Regions from separate parts of the Homo sapiens genome. Here region 2 is linked to region 1. The links come from fine-mapping of genetic effects on gene expression. A gene starts in region 1. The other region holds a variant in brackets. All regions are shown on one strand. Distances are from middle to middle. Region 1 holds the start of ZKSCAN2 (zinc finger with KRAB and SCAN domains 2). Region 2 has its middle 49 kb from the start of LINC02191.

Region 1 (10,240 bases):
TAAGGACTGTGGGAACTGGAGAGCACACATCTGATTGAAAGGGCACTGCCAATGCCAATGCTCAGGTCCCGCTCATGTCTCAGTGTGAGACTATGGCTGTGGTACCTTCCCTCCTTCCCTACCCCCTTTCCCTTCCCCAGCCTTCCTTTCCCCCTCCCTTCCCTTTTCTCCCTTCCTCTCTCTCTCTCTCTCTCTCTCTCTGTCTCTCTCAATCATGGACATTTGCAATGCATTCCATCATAATATAAATTTGGGGAGGCATAAAACAGTATAGTAGTACTGAATCTTGCCTCTCAGTGAAGGGCTGGGTAAATCAGACAGACTTGAGGTTTAAAAATAATTGTGCCATTCTGGGGGAAAGGAAACTAGCATTTATTGAGCACTATTATGCACTGGCTCCTTCATGCTGCCGCATTTAATCTGCACAAATAGCCTTGCTATTTCCCTCTTAAAGATGAGAGGACTGGGTGTGGTGGCTCACGCCTGTAATCCCAGCACTTTGGGAGGCCAAGGCGGGCAGATCACCTAACGTGAGGAGTTCAAGACCAGCCTGGTCAACATGGTGAAACCCCATCTCTACTAAAAATACAAAAATTAGCCAGGCATGATGGCACACGCCTGTAATCCCAGCTACTCGAGAGACTGAGGCACGAGAATTGCTGGAACCTGGGAGGCGGAGGTTGCTGTGAGCTGAGATCGTGCCACTGCACGCTAACCTGGAACAAGACTCCACCTCAAAGAAAAAATAAAATAAAATAAAATAAAATAAAGATGAGAGAATGGAAAGCTTGAGAAGTTAAGTATCCTGACCAAGGCCACATAGATAAAAAAATGGCAGAGCTAGGTTTTGAATCTAGGTCTGTCTGTCTCTAAAGCCTAAGCTCTTAGCCTCTGTGCATTCATGCGTCTTTTCATATTATTTGCCCAAGATCACAGACAGAAGGTGGCAGAGACAAGATATAAACAGAAGACTTCTGACGGCAGGTTTAGTGATGTTTCCATTCCTCTCTTTAAGACTGAGATGAAGCCACACTTCAGGAGATGGAGAGATCACTGTGGACTGGGAAGGACAGGGTATTCATTTCCTAGCATTTGACCTGAGTCATTAATGTGCAGGGCAGCTATGAATGTCAGTGGTCCCTTCCCTGTGAAATCTTAACTGTTTATCTCTCTTGTATGCCACTTCTGTGATGGCCTGTGAGTCAAACTTTGAACACAAATGCCTTGTTCCCTTTCAAACAGCTTTTTGACTTATTTATAGTCAGCCAAGAGCACATACACATGGCAGGACTGAAAAACACATGATGATTGTAGAATGTAGATCTTATTTTATTTTTTTGTAGAGAAAATGTGTTTGTCTCGCTATCTTGCCCAGGCTGGTCTTGAACTCCTGGCTTCAAGAGATCCGCCTGCCTCGGCCTCCCAAAGTGTTGGGATTACGACGTGAGTCACTGTGTCCAGCCATGGAGAGTTTACCACCACAGGATCTCATAGCTGGCCCAGGCAATCTAAGTTTCCCCAGTTTGGATCTTTTTTTTTTTTTTTTTGAGACAGGGTCTCGCTCTGTCACCCAGGCTGGAATACAGTGGTGTGATCACGGCTTACTGCAGCCTCAACCTCCTGGGTTCAAGCAATCCTCCTGACTCAGCCTCCTGAGTAGCTGAGACCACAGGTGCACGCCAACACACCTGGCTAATATTTTTTTTTTTTTTGCGATTTTGTAGAGACTGGGTTTTCCCATGTTGCCCAGACTCAGTTTCCATCTTTATGATACCTTTTCACTTATATTGCACATGTTCCTAATTCTTGAAGTGAATGAAACCTTTCTCCTATTCTGAATATGTATCAAGGAGGCCCTCCACTGCACATTCACAGCGTTGGGGTACTGCGGAAATCTGCCCCAGCCTCTGCACTAGGCGTGCTCCGAGTCTTCCCTCTTACCATTCTTGGGTAAGGGCCGACGTTCTCGCTTTCGGTTCAGCTGTTCCTGGTGTCCTGAGTGGAGGCTTCCAGGTTCCTCCCGAGACACCGCCCTGGGTTGGGTCTCCACCTGCTCTGGCTGGAAGTCTGCCACCTCCCACGCTGCTCCAAGTGGGGAGTGCTTCTCCCGGTGCACGGGACTGCTGACCTGAGAAATGAAGTCAATACCATAAGAGGGAGTAAAACAGGCCCATATCAGGGCGAAATTCTCCCAGGAAAGACATCAAAGAAGGACAGAGACATGAGAAGGAATGAAAATTCCACTCCATTCCCAGTGGAGTCTCTGAGAGCGCTGGGCTGAGAGTACTGTCCAGCAGTCTGGGTGTAAGGTAACAGAACAGTGTTCTTTTTTCTGAGACAGAGTTTCACTTTTGTTGCCCAGGCTGGAGTGCAATGGCACGATCTTGGCTCACTGCAACCTCCACCTCCCAGGTTCAAGCGATTCTCCTCTCTCAGCCTCCCAAGTAGCTGGGATTACAGGCATGCACCAACACAACCGGCTAATTTTATATTTTTTTAGTAGAGATGGGGTTTCATTATGTTGGTCAGGCTGGTCTCGAATTCCTGACCTCAGGTGATCAACATGCCTCGGCCTCCCAAAGTGCTGGGATTACAGATGTGAGCCACCGCGCCTGGCCAGAATAATATTTAATACTAAACAGAGAAGGAAATCTGTCAGGAGTGAAAGAGCCTCCTTGTTGCTAGAATAGATATTATTTGACTCTATATCTGTTACGTTCGCAAAGAAGTTACCAGGACATGAATATATACAGTAGTGAAATGAAAACTTACAAAATTAATATCCACATCTATCTGTCTATCCCTGACCAATACAGCAACCTGCTGATAGATCTCTACACAATGCAAGTCTGATGCAAGGTGAAACCGCAAATCTTGCAAATGCTGCAGGATTTCACGAGGTTCATGAAAGTGAGGTTGAAGAACAACTAGAAGAGCATGCAAGCCACTGAGAAATGAAGATGTGGCAGTTAGACTGGAGGAGAGTGACAGAAATGAAGGCATGAGAGCACTTCAGAAGACACTGAGTGCAACAGTAAAACGCTTGGAGACGGCTCTGGGATAACGGATGAAGTCTTTTTTTTTTTTTTTTAAAGGGGGAACAGAATAGCCTTTTTTGATCAAAATGCGTAAGTGAACCTCTGTGACGCAAAACCATATTGTTCTCTTATATTGTTTTGTTGCAAACATTATGCCAAAGATGACGATAAATGCTTAGGTGAATAATGTCTGGTTTCCATTGTAAGATAATATTTCAATCAAAGCTTTTATTTTTCTATTTCATGTGAAATTCTGATCCCCTTTTAAGTGGATTCACTTAAAGTGAAAAGACCCCCTTATAGGGTCTTTTATTAGTACCATTTATCTTTCTCTGAAGAGCACGTCTTTCTGCAATACATCCCTGCCCACATGCCTTTCCCATTCCCTTTTTTCTAAGTACAAAAATTTGGAAAATCCTCTCTCACCTGCTGTCTTAGTCTTCCAGTCTCTTTCTCCAAATGCACTACCAGGGCCACCGCTTCCTCTCCACTTTGCGGACACTGCTTCTGTGCCCAAGCCTGAATCTTCTCGGGTAAAATGGTGAGAAACTGCTCAATCACCAGCAGCTCAAGTATTTGCTCCTTGGAACGCATTTCTGGCTTCAGCCACCGGCAGCAAAGTTCCCAGAGTTTACTGAAAGCTTCATGGGGTCCAGTCACATCCTCATAACAGAATTGCCTGAAGCATTTGCGGAAGGTCTCAGAGCTATCCGATCCTTCCAGAATGGGCTCTGATGCCCACTCAGGGTCCTTTTCCACCTTCATTATTAGGCATCCCTCAACCTCCAGGGGCGCGTCGATCTGAGAGTCGAGGGCGACAGCCATGCTGCAGCCCAGGGGTCAACTTCACGTCTAGCTCAAGGTGGGGACCCAAAGAAGACTCCAAGCGCTCCCTGCTTAATGTTCCTGGGAGTGTGATAAGGTACGGAGGTAAAAACGGCCAGGTCGGCAGGAACAGGGTATTCCAGGCTGATTAATCAAATCTATGCCAGGCCCTTGAAAAGGTGAACGTATACTCTAAGATGCAAAAGCCTGGCCTCTTCTCCAAACAAGATGTGACCGCGCAATGTGGTTTTCCAGAGTGCATCCCTCTTAGTGCAAAGTCGGAAACCGGGAGGCTGGACGACTGGGAGAAAAATGAAGCAGGCTGAGGAAAGGCTGGGCGGAGGCGGACAGCCGGGCCGGGAGGGGGTGTGTCCGCTACTCCCGGGTCGGGCGCGGAGAGGCGAGTCCCCGAGTGGGTGGGGCCGGATGTGCAGGCCCCGCCCGGCGCCAGGTTCCGGGCTCGGGTCACCGCAGCACGTCCAGGCCGCCGCGGGTGCCGCTGGGGCCGCCGGATTCCGAGAGCGGCGCCGGGCTCTTTCGGGCCCACGACGGCCCCGACCGTCCTGAGGAAACCGCTGCCGCCGAGGAAAGGCCGCAAAAACTGTTCCGCCCGGAAGGGAGAAGAGCTGCGGGGCGAAGCCAGGGCTCGCAGGGGGCAGCGGCAGGCTGCTCGCGTTCGGCCTCGTCCACTCGGCCCGCGGAGAGCGCGGGGGGCGCTGGGAACCGCAGTCACGCATGCGCCGCCTGCCACCGAGCGCCGCGGGGCCCGCGCGAGGCGTCCTGGCGGGCGAGGGGCTGGGGGAGGGGGGGGGGGCCGTGCGGTGGACTCTCGCGAGAGCGCGCGGCGCGGTGACTCGTCGCTGAGGGACTTTAAGATTGTAGAGGGGCGCGGAGGGTCCTCCCCGGGGCGGAGGGACACAGAGGGATTCTAGGGAACCTGCCGTCGCGAGTCCCGCTTCAGGCGGAGAATCTAGGCGGCGGCGGGGCCTCCCTGAGGCGGAGGAGTCGGCACCGGGGCCTGGCTGCCGGGGAAGGAGAGCACGGGAGCGGGGACTCCTGTGTCTGGCGGAGGGACACGGCGTTCCGGTGGAGGGATCTGTTCCTTGTACCTGGTCCAGGGTTGCGGTCGGGGATGGAGCGGTTACCCCGACCCTGCGGGACCTTCTTCCTCTGGCGGAGGTGCACGGCGCGGCGTGGTGTTTTTCTGGCGGAAGTATCTGTGCGTGGCCCCAGGCCCTTCCCGGCGCGGTCTCATCTGGGGCCACTTGTTGGCCCTCGCGTTGGGGAGGTTCATGTGGTGCATCCTGATGAGAAGGGGGGTCACAGGGGTCTCGGGGCCAGGGTTCAGCCAGCCAGGCCCCAGCTTGCTCTCTTCTGGTGCTGCCCCTGTCCCTGAATTCATAGACCCGGCTTTCCCTCTCTTGAGCACCTACTATGTGCCAGGCTGCGCTTTGCGCATGTAGCAGAGGCAACAGTGTCACCTGGGAAGCTGGTTTCCCCCAAAGGAACTCTTGTCTGTCCGTTGTTGCAGAGCCAGCGCATGAGACCAAGTGTGAGTATCAGGCAGTGCAGCCTTCATTCAGTGGCCATGGAATTGGAGAAGTGGGAGGGTAGCTCGCAAATCAAGCTCTCAGCTCTTGGAAACTGAGAAGTTACAGGTAATAGGGAGTGTTGACGAAAAGTAAAACCGTGCAAAATATTTGAAGAGATTTATTGTGAGCCAAATACGAGTAACCACAGCCTGTGATACAGCCCTCTCGAGGCCCTGAGAACATGTGCCCAAGGTGGTCGGGGTGCAGCTTGGTTTTATGTTTTAGGTTGGCATGAGACATCAGTCAAATACATTAAATACATTGGTTTGGTCCAGGAAGGCGGGACAACGCAAAGGGGTGGGGGTGGGGGCTTCCAGGCTATAGGTAAATTTAAATATTTTCTAGTTGACAATTGGTTGAGTTTGTCTGAAGACCTGGGATTGATAGAAAGGAAGTGTTCAGGTTAAGATAAAAGATAGTGGAGACTAAGGTTCTTTTGAAGTCTTATGGTGGCTGCTCTTAGAGATAATAGATGACAAATGTTTCCTATTCAGATCTTCAAAAGGTGTTAGACTTTTAGTTAATCCGTTTAGGATTGGGAGGGCCTGGAAGAAAAACATCTAGCTATGTTAATAGATGTTCTTTACAGATGCACATTTTACCCCACAAAGGATAGCTTTTGGGGGAAAATGCTGTCCTTTATGGAAGAAATTGCAAAATAGGGCAAGGAAACATGTTTTGGGGTAAAATATTTTGACTTTCTTTTTGTCACGTAATGTTATGCCAGAGTCAGAATGGAAAGTAAGTCATCATATATAGGATTAAATAAAACCCATCTGATGAGAATTTATGGTTTGTAGGTCATGACTCCCCAGATCCCTTAGATAGGAATTTGGGCAGGATTAAAAAAATCAAGAGTTTAGGCTGGTCGTGGTGGCTCACGCCTATAATCCCAGCATTTTGGGAGGCCAAGGCAGGTGGATCGCTTGAGGTCAGAAGTTTAAGACCAGCCTGGCCAACATGGCGAAACCCCGTCTCTACTAAAAATACAAAAATTAGCTGGGCATGGTGGCACACGCCTGTGATTCTAGCTGATTGGGAGGCTGAGGCATGAGACTCAACTTGAACCCGGGAGGCGGAGGTTGCAATGAGCTGAGATTGTGCCACTGCACTCCAGCTTGGTTGACAAAGTGAGACTCTGTGTCAAAAACAAAACAAAACAGAAAAAAAAAACAAAAGAATCAGAGCTTAGTCGTCAGGTGTCCTTAATGAAGGGGCTGGGCATTAAGAGCAAGGCGAGGAGGCAGAAGGAAAGCTTGAGCCCAGGAATTGGAGACCAGCTTGGGCAACATGGTAAGACCCTGTCTCTAAAAAAAATAAAAATTAAGAACAAGAGGAGGAATATTCATGTTTTTTCTTGGGAAGGGAGGTAGATTTTCCTGGAATCAAGGAGCTGCCCCTTTTTTTGTCCTTTTTTTGGTCTCTTCGGGTCATCACGGTGATTGTCAACTGTCATGGCAACCAGTGGGAATGTCATTTAGTACTGAAGTTGGATTAGAATGAAGCTAGAGGTTCTTCAGAGGTCGAGTAAGCTAAGAAGGAACCTATGACCACAGACAACCTGTTTTCTAAAAATAAGCAGAGTTAAATCTGAGTAGGAATTTAGCTATGTCATGGAGGCATTGCATTGGGTAACAAAAGCCAGGTAGGCGTCCAGCTAAGTCCCCTAGGCCCTGCAACGGGTAACAGCAGTACTGACTCTATGTTAGAGAAAAGCTTGCTTGCTTGAGTATAATTATTGTTTTGCCTGAGTTTGTAAACTATTCACTAAAAACAGCCACAGAAAAAAACAGGACCTTCTTCAACAGATAAAACACACAGACCCGCAGCTTTGGGAACAGGCTGATGGCCCCTGCACAGTCTAGTCACAAGGCATTGACCAAGAAAGTAATGACTAACTGCCCATCTGAGACTGCGCATGATTCACAAGAATGTTTCTTTGTTTTGTTTTTTGAGACAGTCTTGGTCTGTCTCCCAGGCTGGAGTGCAGTGATGTTGGTTCGCTGTAGCCTCTGCCTCCTGAGTAGCTGGGACTACAGGCGTGTGCCACCGCACCTGGCTAATTTTTGTATTTTTAGTAGAGATGATGTTTGACTATGTTGGCCAGGATGGTCTCGAACTCCTGACCTCAAGTGATCCACCTGCCTCGGCCTCCCAAATTGCTGGGGTTACAAGTATGAGCCACCGCTCCTGGCCCACAAGAATGTTTTGATCATTATTTCTCCTAATTTTCCTTAAAATCCCTGGATCTAGAGGCACAACTGAGAAAGGTGGTCTTTGAATGCTAGTGCACTGCCTTTTGCAGGTTGCTGGTTTCTCGAATAAAGCTAACTTTGCTTTCACCAAAGCTTGTCTTTTGAGTTTTTGGCTTTCAGGCGACGAGTGGCCTGGACACCAGTTCGGCTACATGTATGTCAGTGGGCAAAACAAAAATCCTTATTCTGGGAGGTAGATAGCTTATTAGAAAACACAACCTAATCACTTGTTTCCCAAATGTTAAAAATTGAGCCAATTTTAGCCCCAGAAGCTTAGGGTACCATGTACATAACAGGCATTACCTGAGGGTGGGGCAGAGAGAATCAGTGGGGTACCTCGTATATGCCAGGGGTTGTATCAGCATCCTTACACAGCTCATTTTTCTTTTTAAATAATACTTATTGAGGACCTATTTAATGCCAGATATGGTGGTAGGTAGGGAGCAAAAGCAGGATTCCCCTCCCATTATTGAGTTTTCAGTCTGGTGGGAGAGGCAGGAATTAAATAAGTAATCCACAAACTCAAGTACAATTCTAAGGGAGATGGGTGCCACCAAGAAGAGACATGGTGCTGAGAACCTATGTCTGTCAGAGGGATTTGATCTATTTGGGAGGTCTGGAAAGGTTTTTTTGAAGAAGCAGTGCTAGGGGTGAGATCCAAAGGAGAAGAGCTAATTAGGCAAAGCCTAGTCCTCACAAAAATCCTATAAACCAGATATGATTACCTTCATTTTAGAGTTTAGGGCATTGAGACTTGAGCAAGGTGATGTCACTGCCCAAGGTTACATCAGATTAAATGGCAACCCAGGATTCAGATTCAAATAAGAGTAGGGTTCTTTATATTCTCCTTGGGCTATTTGGTGGTTTTAGGAGAGGCAAGTATCACAAACAGCTTGGGGACATGAGGGAGCAGGAATCACAAACTTGAAAGCCTGCAGAGCTCAGGCAGATAGCATAGAGTGAAGTAGGGCAGAGTGTAAGACAATAGGGGATGGTGGGGAGTGTGGTGAGCTGAAGGCCACATTTCCTGTCTAAAGGAAGCAGCCACTAGTTCCAGTCTCTTGTTGCCATGCAGGATTACAGACCAAGCCCTGCTGGATCTTCTGATGATATTATTTTGAGGGCTTGGCGCGGTGGCTCACGCCTGTAATTGCAGCACTTAGGGAGGCCGAGGTGGGCAGATCACAAGGTCAGGAGATCGAGACCATCCTGGCTAACATGGCGAAACCCTGTCTCTACTAAAAATACAAAAAATTAGCTGGGCGTGGTGGTGGGCGCCTGTAGTCCCAGCTACTCTGGAGGCTGAGGCAGGAGAATAGCGTGAACCCGGGAGGTGGAGCTTGCAGTGAGCCGAGATCGCGCTACTGCACTCTAGCCTGGGCAACAGAGCGAGACTCCTTCTCAAAAAACAGGCTAGAGTGCAGTGGTGCAATCATAGCCCACTGCAGCTGGGACTGCAGACACATGCCACTACCCGGCTAATTTTTATATATTTTTTTCAGAGACAGGGTCTCACTATGTTGCCCAGGCTGGTCTGAAACTCCTGAGCTCAAGTGATCAGCCTGCCTTGACCTCCCGAAGTGCTGGAATTACAGGCGTGAGCCCCTGCGCCCGGCCTAGATCTTCTGATTTCTAAAAAGAAGCTGGCAGTATTTTTAGGTGAAGTTATCACACTTCTAAATAATTGGCAGTTACATGAGTTTGCCTCACTATAATGTTAACTCAGTGAAGCAGGACATTTTATGTTTTTAACCACTGTGTACTGGGAGCTTATAAAGTGCCTTACGCATAGTAAGCACTCAACCTCATCTGTGGTATGTAGCCTCTGAGCGATTCCTCCCTTGTGCGCATGGTTTCACAGTTTTTGAAGCAGTTTTATGGTCATTATTTTATCCACCAGTTTTTCAGCTGGCACCTCATTTGTCCTGATGCGGCTGCTGCAGGAAAAGTCCCCGGAAAGGCTCCCCAGGGAAATATTTAGTTGTGCCTTCCTTTTGTACCTTTCCGCCCTCTTTGTATTTTACATTTTCTCCATCCTAATGTGCCTGGCATTATACCTTGGCTCCCTCTAGTTATCCAGCCCATTTTATATTTAATATTTTGTTGTTGCTTTGGTTCTCACCTAGACTTTATGTATTGACCTGGGGCCCATGACCACACTTAGGTATACTTTCACTTACTCTTGGCCCAGCCCCTGCTCCCAGCTGCTTGTCAGGGAAAAGTGCATGAAAAGGTTTCATTTCTTAGAAATTGCTGTCCTGAGACATCTTGCGAAAGTGATCATCCCTGGACATCTGAACTTCCTACTCCATCACATGGACTTGAGCAAGAGAAAAATCTCAGGTCTGCATGGGGCATTTAGAACCTTGCCTCCTGAAAGCTCCTCAGGGTGCAGAGGGAATCAGGTTTGCTCTTTATTATTTCTTAGGTGCAGGATCATAAGTTGTTCAGGAATTGTTACAATTTTGTGGTAGCCTCTCAGTAACACACACAAGTGCGCACACACAGACTCATATATACGCATATGTCT
Region 2 (10,240 bases), 130 kb after region 1:
ATACAAAACACCCTGACAGATTTCCTGAGTGTCTTAGTCTATTTTCTGTTGCTATAACTGAGTACCTGTAATTTATTTTATTTTATTTATTAATTTATTTTTGGAATGGTATCTCACTGTTACCCAGGCTGGAGTGCAGTGGCACAATCTTGGCTCACTGCAACCTCTGTCTCCTGGGCTCAAGTGACCCTCCCACCTCAGTCTTCCAAGTAGTGAGGACCGCAGGCACATGCCACAATGCCTGGCTAAGTTTTTGTTTGTTTGTTTGTTTTGTAGAGATGGGTTTTTTCCATGTTGGCCAGGCTGGTCTCGAACTCCTGGGCTCAAGCAATCCGCCCACCTCAGCCTCCCAAAGTGCTGGGACTACAGGCATAGACCACAGTGTAGACTAGGTAATTAATAAAGAAAAGAAATGTATTTCTTACAGTTTTGGAGGCTGGGAGGTCCAAGGTCAAGGGGTTGCCTCTGGTGGAGGCCTTGTTGGTGGAGACTCTCTGCAGAGTCCCAAGGTGGGACAGAGCATCACATGGTGAGAAGGCTCATGAGAGATGTGCAGGGGATAGGCCCCCAAATCTGGCCATAAACTGGCCCCCAAACTGGCCATAAACAAAATCTCTGCAGCACTGTGACATGTTCATGATGGCCATGATGCCCATGCTGAAGGTTGTGGGTTTACCAGAATGAGGGCAAGGAACACCTGGCCCACCCCAGGGCAGAAAACCACTTAAAGACATTCCTAAGCCACAAACAATAGCATGAGTGATCTGTGCCTTAAGGACGTGTTCATGCTGCAGATAACTAGCCAGAGCCCATCCCTTTATTTCCCGTTAGGAATACTTTTAGTGAACCTGTAATCTATAGAAACAATGCTTATCACTGGCTTGCTGTCAGTAAATATGTGGGTAAATCTCTGTTTGGGGCTCTCTGCTTTGAAGGCTGTGAGTCCCCTGATTTCCCACTCTACGTGCTATATTTCTGTGTGTGTGTGTCTTTAATACCTCTAGCACTGCTGGGTTAGGGTCTCCCCGACTGAGCTGGTCTCGGCAGAGATGGACAAACTGGCTTTGATAACATACCCACTCTTGTGACAACTAACCCACTTTCTCAATAACCCATTCATCCATCAATTCATAAATGGAGTAATTTATTCATGAGGGCAGAGCTCTTATGACCCAATCAATGCCCATAGGTTCCACCTCTCAACACCGCTACATTGAGGATCAAGTTTGCAACACATACATTTTGGGGGACATGCCCAAACCATAGCCCTGGGTCTACTCTGTCAGAAAAAACAAAACAAAACAAAACAAAACAAAAGGCTTTTCATGTGGCTGGAAATGAAAATGGCATGCTTTGAACTCTCAGCAAGAAATCAGACAATGGAATAATCTTTGCCCACATTTGCTGAAGAGCTCAAGACCCAGCCCTCATCCTTTGCTTTTGCTTTAGATAACTCACTTTCCCCAGGGTACCCTACTTATCACCCTGAGCTAATCATGAGTCTCTGATATTGCTCTTGGATAATCATATAATGTAATATGGTGTAGTATAATACAGTATAGCATAGCATGGCATAGTAGCTAAGAACATGGAAGCTGGAGCCAGACTGTCTGTGTTCAAATCCCAGCACTGCAGTTTACTGATTATATGATCCTCAGTGAGTTACTTGGTCTCTGTGACTCAGTTTTTTTTTTCAAACTCTAAATATGAATAATAATAGTACCTATATTGTAGTGTTGATGTGAAGATTAAAGGAGTTGACACAGTACTTGGCATATACGAAGTGCTATGTATTTTTTTTTTTTTTTTTGAGACAGAGTCTCACTCTGTCTTCCAGGCTGGAGTGCAGTAGCATGATCTCGGTTCACTGCAACCTCTGCCTCCCAGGTTCAAGTGATTCTCCTGCTTCAGCCTCCCAAGTAACTGGTATTACAGGCATGTGCCACTACACCTGGCTAATTTTTTGTATTTAGTAGAGACGGGGTTTCACCATGTTGGTCAGGTTAGTCTCGAACTCCTGACCTCAGGTGATCCACCTGCCTCAGCCACCCAAAATGCTGGGATTACAGGCATGTGCCACTGTGCCCAGCATACAAAGTGCTACGTAAATATTAGCTATTGTTATGCCTAAGGGACTTACCTGTGTGAAGATCGGCCTATAAGTCTCTGTGCTTTTTGGATTCCAAATCATGCTTCCTCAACCTGTGAAAAGCATAGATCAGCTGCCCTTTCTTGGGCCTGGCTCAGTGTTTGCATTAGAGAAAAGGGAAAAGTACATTCCAAAATCACCTACTATCATCTCAATTTCTAATAGGTTAGGAAAAAAAAAACCCAAATCGCCTACAGGCATCATGACAGATATCTCTTTGAAGATCCTAACAAGACCCCTGAGAGACAGATACTATTATTGCCAACAGAAATGCTAGCGTTTCTCTCAGCCACAAAATTATTTTTTTTAAATTTTTTAGAGAAAGGGCTTCACTCTGCTGCCCAGGCTAGAATGCAGTGGTATAATCATAGCTCACTGCAGCCTCAAACTCCAGAGCTCAAGCCATCCTCTTGCCTCAGCCTCCCAAGTAGCTGGGATCACAGGCATGTGCCACTATATTTGGCTAATTTATTTTTTGTAGAGATGGGATGTCAATATGTTGCCCAGGCTGATCTGAAATTCCTGGGCTCAAGTGATCCTCCTGCCTTGGCCTCCCAAAGTTCTGGGATTACAAGTGTAAGCCATTGTGCCAGCCCAGAACAACTATTAATATATCCAATATGCAAAGAACTCCCATGAGAAGAAACAAATAAACCACCTGACAGGAAAATGGGCAAAGGCAATGAGTGGACCCCTCACTGAAGAGGATATCCAAATGGCCAAAGGTTATCTCTAAGGATGCTCAAGGACATGCAAATTAAAGCTAAAATAAGATCCCTTTTTTTTTAATCCATTAGACTGGGAAAAAACTAAAAAGAGAAGCTATTTCAAGGTGACAAAAATGTGAGAAAATACTTTCATACGTTGCTGGTGGGAATATGAAATGTGACAACAAGGAATACTAGGAAAAACTTAAGTGTTAAGCTACACAAATGTGTTACCAAGCAATCTTACATTCAATAATCAGACTATGGCCGGGCACGACGGCTCATGCCTGTAATCTCAGCACTTTGGAAGGCTGAGGTGGGAGGATCACCTGAAGTTGGGAGTTCGACACCAGCCTGACCAACATGGAGAAACCCCATCTTTACTAAAAATACAAAATTAGCCGGGCATGGTGGCACATGACTGTAATCCCAGCTACTTGGGAGGCTGAGGCAGGAGAATCGCTTGAACCTGGGAGGCAAATGTTGCGGTGAGATCACGCCATTGCACTCCAGCCTGGGCAACAAGAGTGGAACTCCATGTCAAAAAAAAAAAAAAAATCGGGTTATATAAATTAGAGCATCTCTCTGTTAGAATATAATGTTCAACGTTGTTTCTTTGTGGAAAAATTGGAAACTAGCCTGAATGTTCATCAGTACAAGACTGATTGAATACGTGGGTCCACATATGGAATGTAGTGCAGTCATTAAAAACAGTAAGTAAAAATAAACTGTGGTACATCCCTTTTATGAAATACTACTCAGCAAAACTGAGTGAACTATTGGTACACACGACTTAGAGGAATCTCAAATGCATTATGTGGGACAACAGAAGCCAATTTCAAATATTGTGTGATTTCATTGATGTGACGTTCTTTTTTTTTTTTAAGATGGAGTCTCACTCTGTCACCCAGGCTAGAGTGCAGTGACATGATCTCGACTCATTGCAATCTCCGTCTCCCGGGTTCAAGTGATTCTCCTGCCTCAGCCTCCCAAGTAGCTGGAATTACAGGCACATGCCACCACACCCAGCTAATTTTTGTATTTTTAGTAGAGATGGGGTTTCACCATATTGGTCAGGCTGGTCTTGAACTCCTGACCTCAGGTGATCCACCTGCCTCAGTCTCCCAAAGTGCTGCTGACAGATCTGTCTTTGAAGATCCTAACAAGACCCCTGAGAGACAGATACTATTATCGCCAACAGAAATGCTAGCCTTTCTCTCAGCCACAAAATTATTTTTTTTTAATTTTTTAGAGAAAGGGCTTCACTCTGCTGCCCAGGCTAGAGTGCAGTGGTATAATCATAGCTCACTGCAGCCTCAAACTCCAGAGCTCAAGCCATCCTCTTGCCTCAGCCTCCCAAGTAGCTGGGATCACAGGCATGTGCCACTATACTTGGCTGATTTATTTGTTGTCTCCCAAAGTCTCAGTCTCCCAAAGTGCTGGGATTACAGGCGTGAGCCACCATGCCTGGCCGATGTGACATTCTTGAAATGACAAAACTATAATGTTGAAGAACAGATTAGTGGTTGTTGGGGCTTAGGGATGGAAGGAGGGTGTGACTACTGGATGTGAAGGAACTTTTTGGGGTGGTGGAAATGTACATGTTTATTGTGGTGGTGATCACGTGAATGCAGACATTGCTGAAATTCATAGAACTATACACTCCCAAAAGGTTGATTTTGCTGTGTAATAAGTATAAAACATGTTTAACGACATCAAAAATGAGTTATATCTATACCGATTGACTGGGCGGGGTCTCCTGATAATTTAGGATGAAAAAAGTTGTAAAACAAGGTGGATACCATGATCTTATTTTTGTGAAACCAACCAAAAATCCTTTCTATGTATGATTATGTGTTTGTGTATGTTTCCATGAGTATAAGAAAGAAGTGGAAAAACACTCTCTAGGCTGTTAATATTGGTTATCTCAGGAAGGCTGGAATGGAAGGGGAAGCATTAAGAAGTGTTTCTTTGTATATCTTTGCATTATTTCACTGGTTATATTGAGCAAATACTACATTTTTAATTAGAGCAAGAGAGCCAGATAAAATTAATAAAGGAAAATTAAAGAAGTCAGAGAAAATCAGAAGGAAGGCTAGTAAGAAAGAAGGCAAGAAAAGTCCAAGAGAGAACTGGTTGGTGGAAAAGTGGCAAAGAAGTGACCTTCAGGGTTCAGTGGGGTCTGTGAAGTACCCATTAAATCTCCAAATCAGAAAAATACGAGTGTTGGCCAGGCATGGTGGCTCACGCCTGTAATCCCAGCACTTCGGGAGACTGAGGCGGGTGGATCAACTGAGGTCAGGAGTTCAAGACCAGCCTGGCCAACATGATGAAACCCCGTCTCTACTAAAAATACAAAAATTAGCTGAGCCTGGTTTCAGGTGCCTGTAATCCCAGCTACTTGGGAGGCAGAGGCGGGAGAATTGCTTGAACCCAGAGGTGGAGGTTGCAGTGAGTCAAGATTGTGCCACTGCACTCTAGCCTGGGCGACAAGAATGAGACTCCGTCTCAATATGAGTGTTGCTGGAACTACAGGAACATTCTGCACCTGGAGCCAGGGACAAGCTGTGATTCAAGGGTTAAGACTTGGGCTCTGGTATGGTTTGGCAATATGTTCCCACCCAAATCTCATGTTGAATTGTAATTCCCAATGTTGGGGGAGGGACCTAGTGGGAGGTGATTGGATTGTGGGGGTGGAATTTCCCATGCTGTTCTCGTGATAGTGAGTGAGTTCTCACAAGATCTGATGGTTTGAAAGTGTATGACACTTCCTCCCTCACACTTTCTCTCCTGCCACCACATGAAGAAGGTGCTTGTTTCCCCTTCACCTTCCGCCATGACTGTAAGTTTCCTGAGGCCTCTCAGCCATGCTTCATGTTAAGCCCGTGGAACTGTGAGTCAATTAAACCTCTTTTCTTTATAAATTACCCAGTCTCAGGTAGTTCTTTA[C/T]AGCAGTGTGAGAACAGATTAATACAGGTTCATTTCTAGGGCTCAAGGCAGCTTTCATGGCTCTCCTTTGTTTTTTCTGCATGTTCGTTTGTTCACCTGTGCATCCATCATCCATCACCCATCTACCTTTTGTTAAATGCCTACTGTGTTCTTAATTTTAAAACTTATGCTTCGTGTTTCCTCTGAATCATAATAAAATCCAAAATAAAATCCAGTGTTGTGTGCTGGTCTTTAGAGGCTACAATAAATGAAGACACTGGGATCCTTTACTAAGATTTTATTTCTTTTTTAAAAAAATGTTTTCAACTTTTATTTTAGATTCAGTGGGTACATGTGCAGGTTTGTTACCTAGGTATATTGCATGATGCTGAGGTTGGGAGTATGAATGATCCCGTTACCCAGGTAGTGAGCATAGTACCCACCAGTTAGTTTTTCAATGCTTGCCCCTCACTGCTTCCCCACTTTAGTAGTCCCCAGCGTCTATTGTTGTCATCTTTATGTCTGTAAGTACTCAATGTTTACCTCCTTCTTCTAAGTGGGATTTGGTTTTCTGTTCCTGTGTTAATTTGCACAGGATAATGGCCCCCAGCTGCATCCACGTTGCTGCAAAGGATGTGATTTCATTCTTTTTTATGGCTGTATTGTATTCCATGGAGTATATGTGCATATTTTCCTTATTGAATCCACTGTTGATGGGCACCTAGGTTGATTCCATGTCTCTAGTATTGTGAATAGTGCGGAAATGACCATATGAGTGCATGTGTCTTTTTGGTAGAACAATTTATTTTCTTTTGGATACATACCTGGCAATGAGATTGCTGGGTTGAATGGTAGTTATGTTTTAGGTTCAGATTTTATTTCTGAGATTAAGCTTCATGGACCATTCCTCCTGGAGTATGTGGCGGTGGCAACTCTACATAGGGGAAACCTGTATGCACTCAGTCTTCAGAGCCTCTGAAATAGACATTTGGGAACCTCAGGATTTGGTGATAGACCTTGCAATGGGTCACTCTGTTACCTTGGGAGTGTCCAGGGCATCTTCTCCCAATTTCCTGTTGTGATTGATTAGAGAGATGTTCCCCATACTATCAGAACAGGTTTTTTTTAAATTATACTTTAAGTTCTGGCATACATGTGCAGAGCGTGCAGGTTTGTTACATAGGTATGCAAGTGCCATGGTGGTTTGCTGCACGCATTAACCCGTCATCTACATTAGATATTTCTCCAAATGCTATCCCTCCCCTAGCCCCCCACCCGCCAACAGGCCCCGGTGTGTGATGTTCCCCTCCCTGTGTCCATGTGTTCTCATTGTTCAACTCCCACTTATGAGTGAGAACATGAGGTGTTTGGTTTTCTGTTCCTGTATTAGTTTGCTGAGAATGATGGTTTCCAGCTTCATCCATGTCCCTGCAAAGGACATGAACTCATCCTTTTTTATGGCTGCATAGTATTCCATGGTGTATATGTGTCACATTTTCTTTATTCAGTCTATCATTGATGCACATTTGGGTTGGTTCCAAGTCTTTGCTATTGTGAAAAGTGCTGCAATAAACATATGTGTGCATATCTTTATAGTAGAATGATTTACAATCCTTTGGGTATATACCCAGTAATGGGATTGCTGGGTCAAATGATATTTTTGATTCTAGATCCTTGAGAAATCGCCACACTGTCTTCTACAATGGTTGAACGAATTTACACTCCCACCAACAGTGTAAAAGTGTTCCTATTTCTCCACATCCTCTCCAGCATCTAGAACAGGGTTCTTAAGTCAAACTACCTGAGCCCAAATCCTAGCTAAGTCACTTACTGACTGTGTGCCCTTGGGCAAGTTTAATGCTATGTCTGGGGTTCTCAGTTTCCTCATCTGTAAACAGTGCATGAAGAGTAAATGTGTTAATAGATGAAAAGCCCTTGAAACACTGTCTGCTCAAAATACGCTTTATGATCAGTATTCTCACTGTAGTTGCTGATAATTAAGTGGCAATGAGTTGCATTGACTAGATGCATAATACAATAATCCATTGGATTGTGTTGAATAACAGAAGACAATGAACATAAAACATAATAACATTTATGTTACAACTATATGTGTTTGTATATATGTGTGTTTGTGTGTGTGTAAGTATATTTTTCCAAGTTTGTATGTATGTACATATGTAAATTTGACAAGACATTGAGAAAAGTCTGAAAGAACATACCCCAGACCATAACATCTCAGAAGGGTGGATTTGGGAGAGGATTAAATGGGAATTTACTTATTATTTTATGCTCTTCCATATTGTCCAAAAATTTATCATCAATATTATTGTTTTTGTAATTTAAAAAGAAAAATAAATGAAAAGAATCAAACAATTTTAAAATGGAGATAAACAAATCAAAGAATCTCTTTTCATCTTCTATACAGAAAAATTACTATTTTTCAGAGTCATTCGTTGTATGAGGTTCTCAAAGGCAGCCATAAAAAGGATATATATATATATATATTTTTTCCAATATTAAGGCAATTTCTGGGATTGTTGATCCTTATGTGAAGTTGAGATGTATCTGATATAGATCCATGAGGTCAGTCTAATAAATCACTTTGCTGGTTGCTGCATTTGAAATTCAAAGCCCGGAGATACAACTCTCCATGTCTAGGGCTCCCCAGGTGCCACTCATCCTGATCCCCCTTGCCCACAGCCTTGATGGGCTGGACTCACAGAATTTGGAGCTGCACATTTCTCTAAATAATCTCACCCTCTTCTTCCTAAAAAAAAATTTTTTTGAGACAGCGTCCCACTCTGTGAGTGTGGTGGCATGATCATGGCTCACTACACCTTCCACCTCCCGGGCTCAAGCAATCCTCCCATCTCAGCCTCCTGAGTAGCTGGGACTACAGGCATGTGCCACCATACCCAGCTAATTTTTTGATTTTTGTAGAGACAGGGTTTCGCTGTGTTGCCCAGGCTGGTCTTGAACTCTTGGGCTCAAGCGATCCTCCCATCTCAGCCTCCTAAAGTGCTAAGATTGCAGGTCTAAGCCACCATGCCTGGCCCCTGTTCTTTAAATATGCTCCTCCAAGTTAGTCTACCTGAAGTACCCAGAGAGAGCTTATTGCTATGGAGAACATAGTCAGAAGTCTGCTTTGGTCCTGTTGGAAAGCTATAAAACATTTATCATTGTGGACCAAGCAGATGATATAAAAGACCAGGGTAGCTACAGTGATGACAGGCAGATTCTCAGGCAAGACTGACTCAAAGTGTCTGAAACTATTTTATCCATTCCCTTAGAAATGGGATCTCTTTAGGGACAGACTCACATTGTCTAGACACACTGAGTCTAATTTACAAACCAAATTTGCACTATTACAAGGAGGGAAGATAAACCACTGCAGTGACAAGAAGTCTCAGGTCTAATCCTTAGGACACCCTTCCAGTAATTAAGGCACCTGGAAAATGGGAAAAGATGTGGAATGGATGATTGGAGGAGACTCAATTTGGGAACCATGTAACTTTGGAATTACCATCAGCTGTGTGACTGCAGACCTTTGGTAAAATTCTCTGAAGCGTTTATCATCTGAATAATAGAGATAATAGTACAACTTTAAAGTGGATTTTTAGAAATAAACTGAGACTTGCAAGCAGAGTCTTACTGGGGAGACATACTTGTAAGAAAGTGAGAATTGTAGAAGGGATAAACTGACCTGCAATGTGGCTGTAACTGAGATCTCTGGAACTTGGATAGGGACTTCAGAGTTGGGATAACCCTTCAAGTTGTCTCAAATTGGGAGAGAAGGGCTGAGCCTTTGAACCTTTACATTAATCAATCTGTGGCCATATACCATGCCGAGGGTGTATGACCTTGGATGATGTCATTCCATATAACTGAGGGCAGTTTTTAGTGAGAGGTACAGCTGTGGGCTTCTAACAGCCTCTATTCCCAGCAGTTAGAGTGCATTGGTTTTGAAGAGGGGATCTTGACAGCATTTCCCAGTGTCCACTATAAGTCTATACTTTATAAGTTTGTAGGGATTATACAAGTACTTAGCGTAATGCCAGCTACACTGCATAATATCTAAAAATACTAGTTCTTTTTCCTTCTCCTTAGAAAAATATTTCTCAATCACTTTGGAAGGGTATGGGAGATGTTTTATTCTGTTCTATTTTACTTACTTACTTATTTATTTATTTATTTTTTTTTTGAGATGGATTCTCGCTCTGTCACCCAGGCTGGAGTGCAATGGTGTGATCTCGGCTCACTGCAACCTCTGCCTCCCAGGTTCAAGCAATTCTCCTGCCTCAGCCTCCCAAGTAGCTGGGACTACAGGTGCCCGCCACCACGCCCAGCTAATTTTTCTATTTTTAGTAGAGACGGGGTTTCCCCATATTGGTCAGGCTTGTCTCGAACTCCTGACCTCAGATGATCCACCTGCCTTGGCCTCCCAAAGTACTGG

Evidence for each region.
Region 2: its variant is fine-mapped to the expression of ZKSCAN2 in whole blood (INTERVAL, PIP above 0.99).

What each region holds. Positions count from the first base shown.
Region 1 is chr16:25,253,265-25,263,504 of GRCh38, forward strand. ZKSCAN2 (zinc finger with KRAB and SCAN domains 2) reads right to left here and starts at 4,581. Exons shown (of 7, transcript NM_001012981.5): 1 at 3,465-4,581; 2 at 1,942-2,128. The coding sequence starts at 3,863. It overlaps ZKSCAN2-DT (ZKSCAN2 divergent transcript), which reads left to right and starts at 4,313. Exons shown (of 1, transcript NR_170220.1): 1 at 4,313-7,802. RefSeq lists enhancers at 3,947-4,507, 4,923-5,242, 5,363-5,442 and silencers at 4,193-4,432, 4,513-4,712.
Region 2 is chr16:25,379,150-25,389,389 of GRCh38, forward strand. No RefSeq gene overlaps it. Among named protein-coding and RNA genes, the nearest start is that of LINC02191, 49 kb to the right of the region's middle. The variant C/T (reference allele first, on the strand shown) is at 5,806.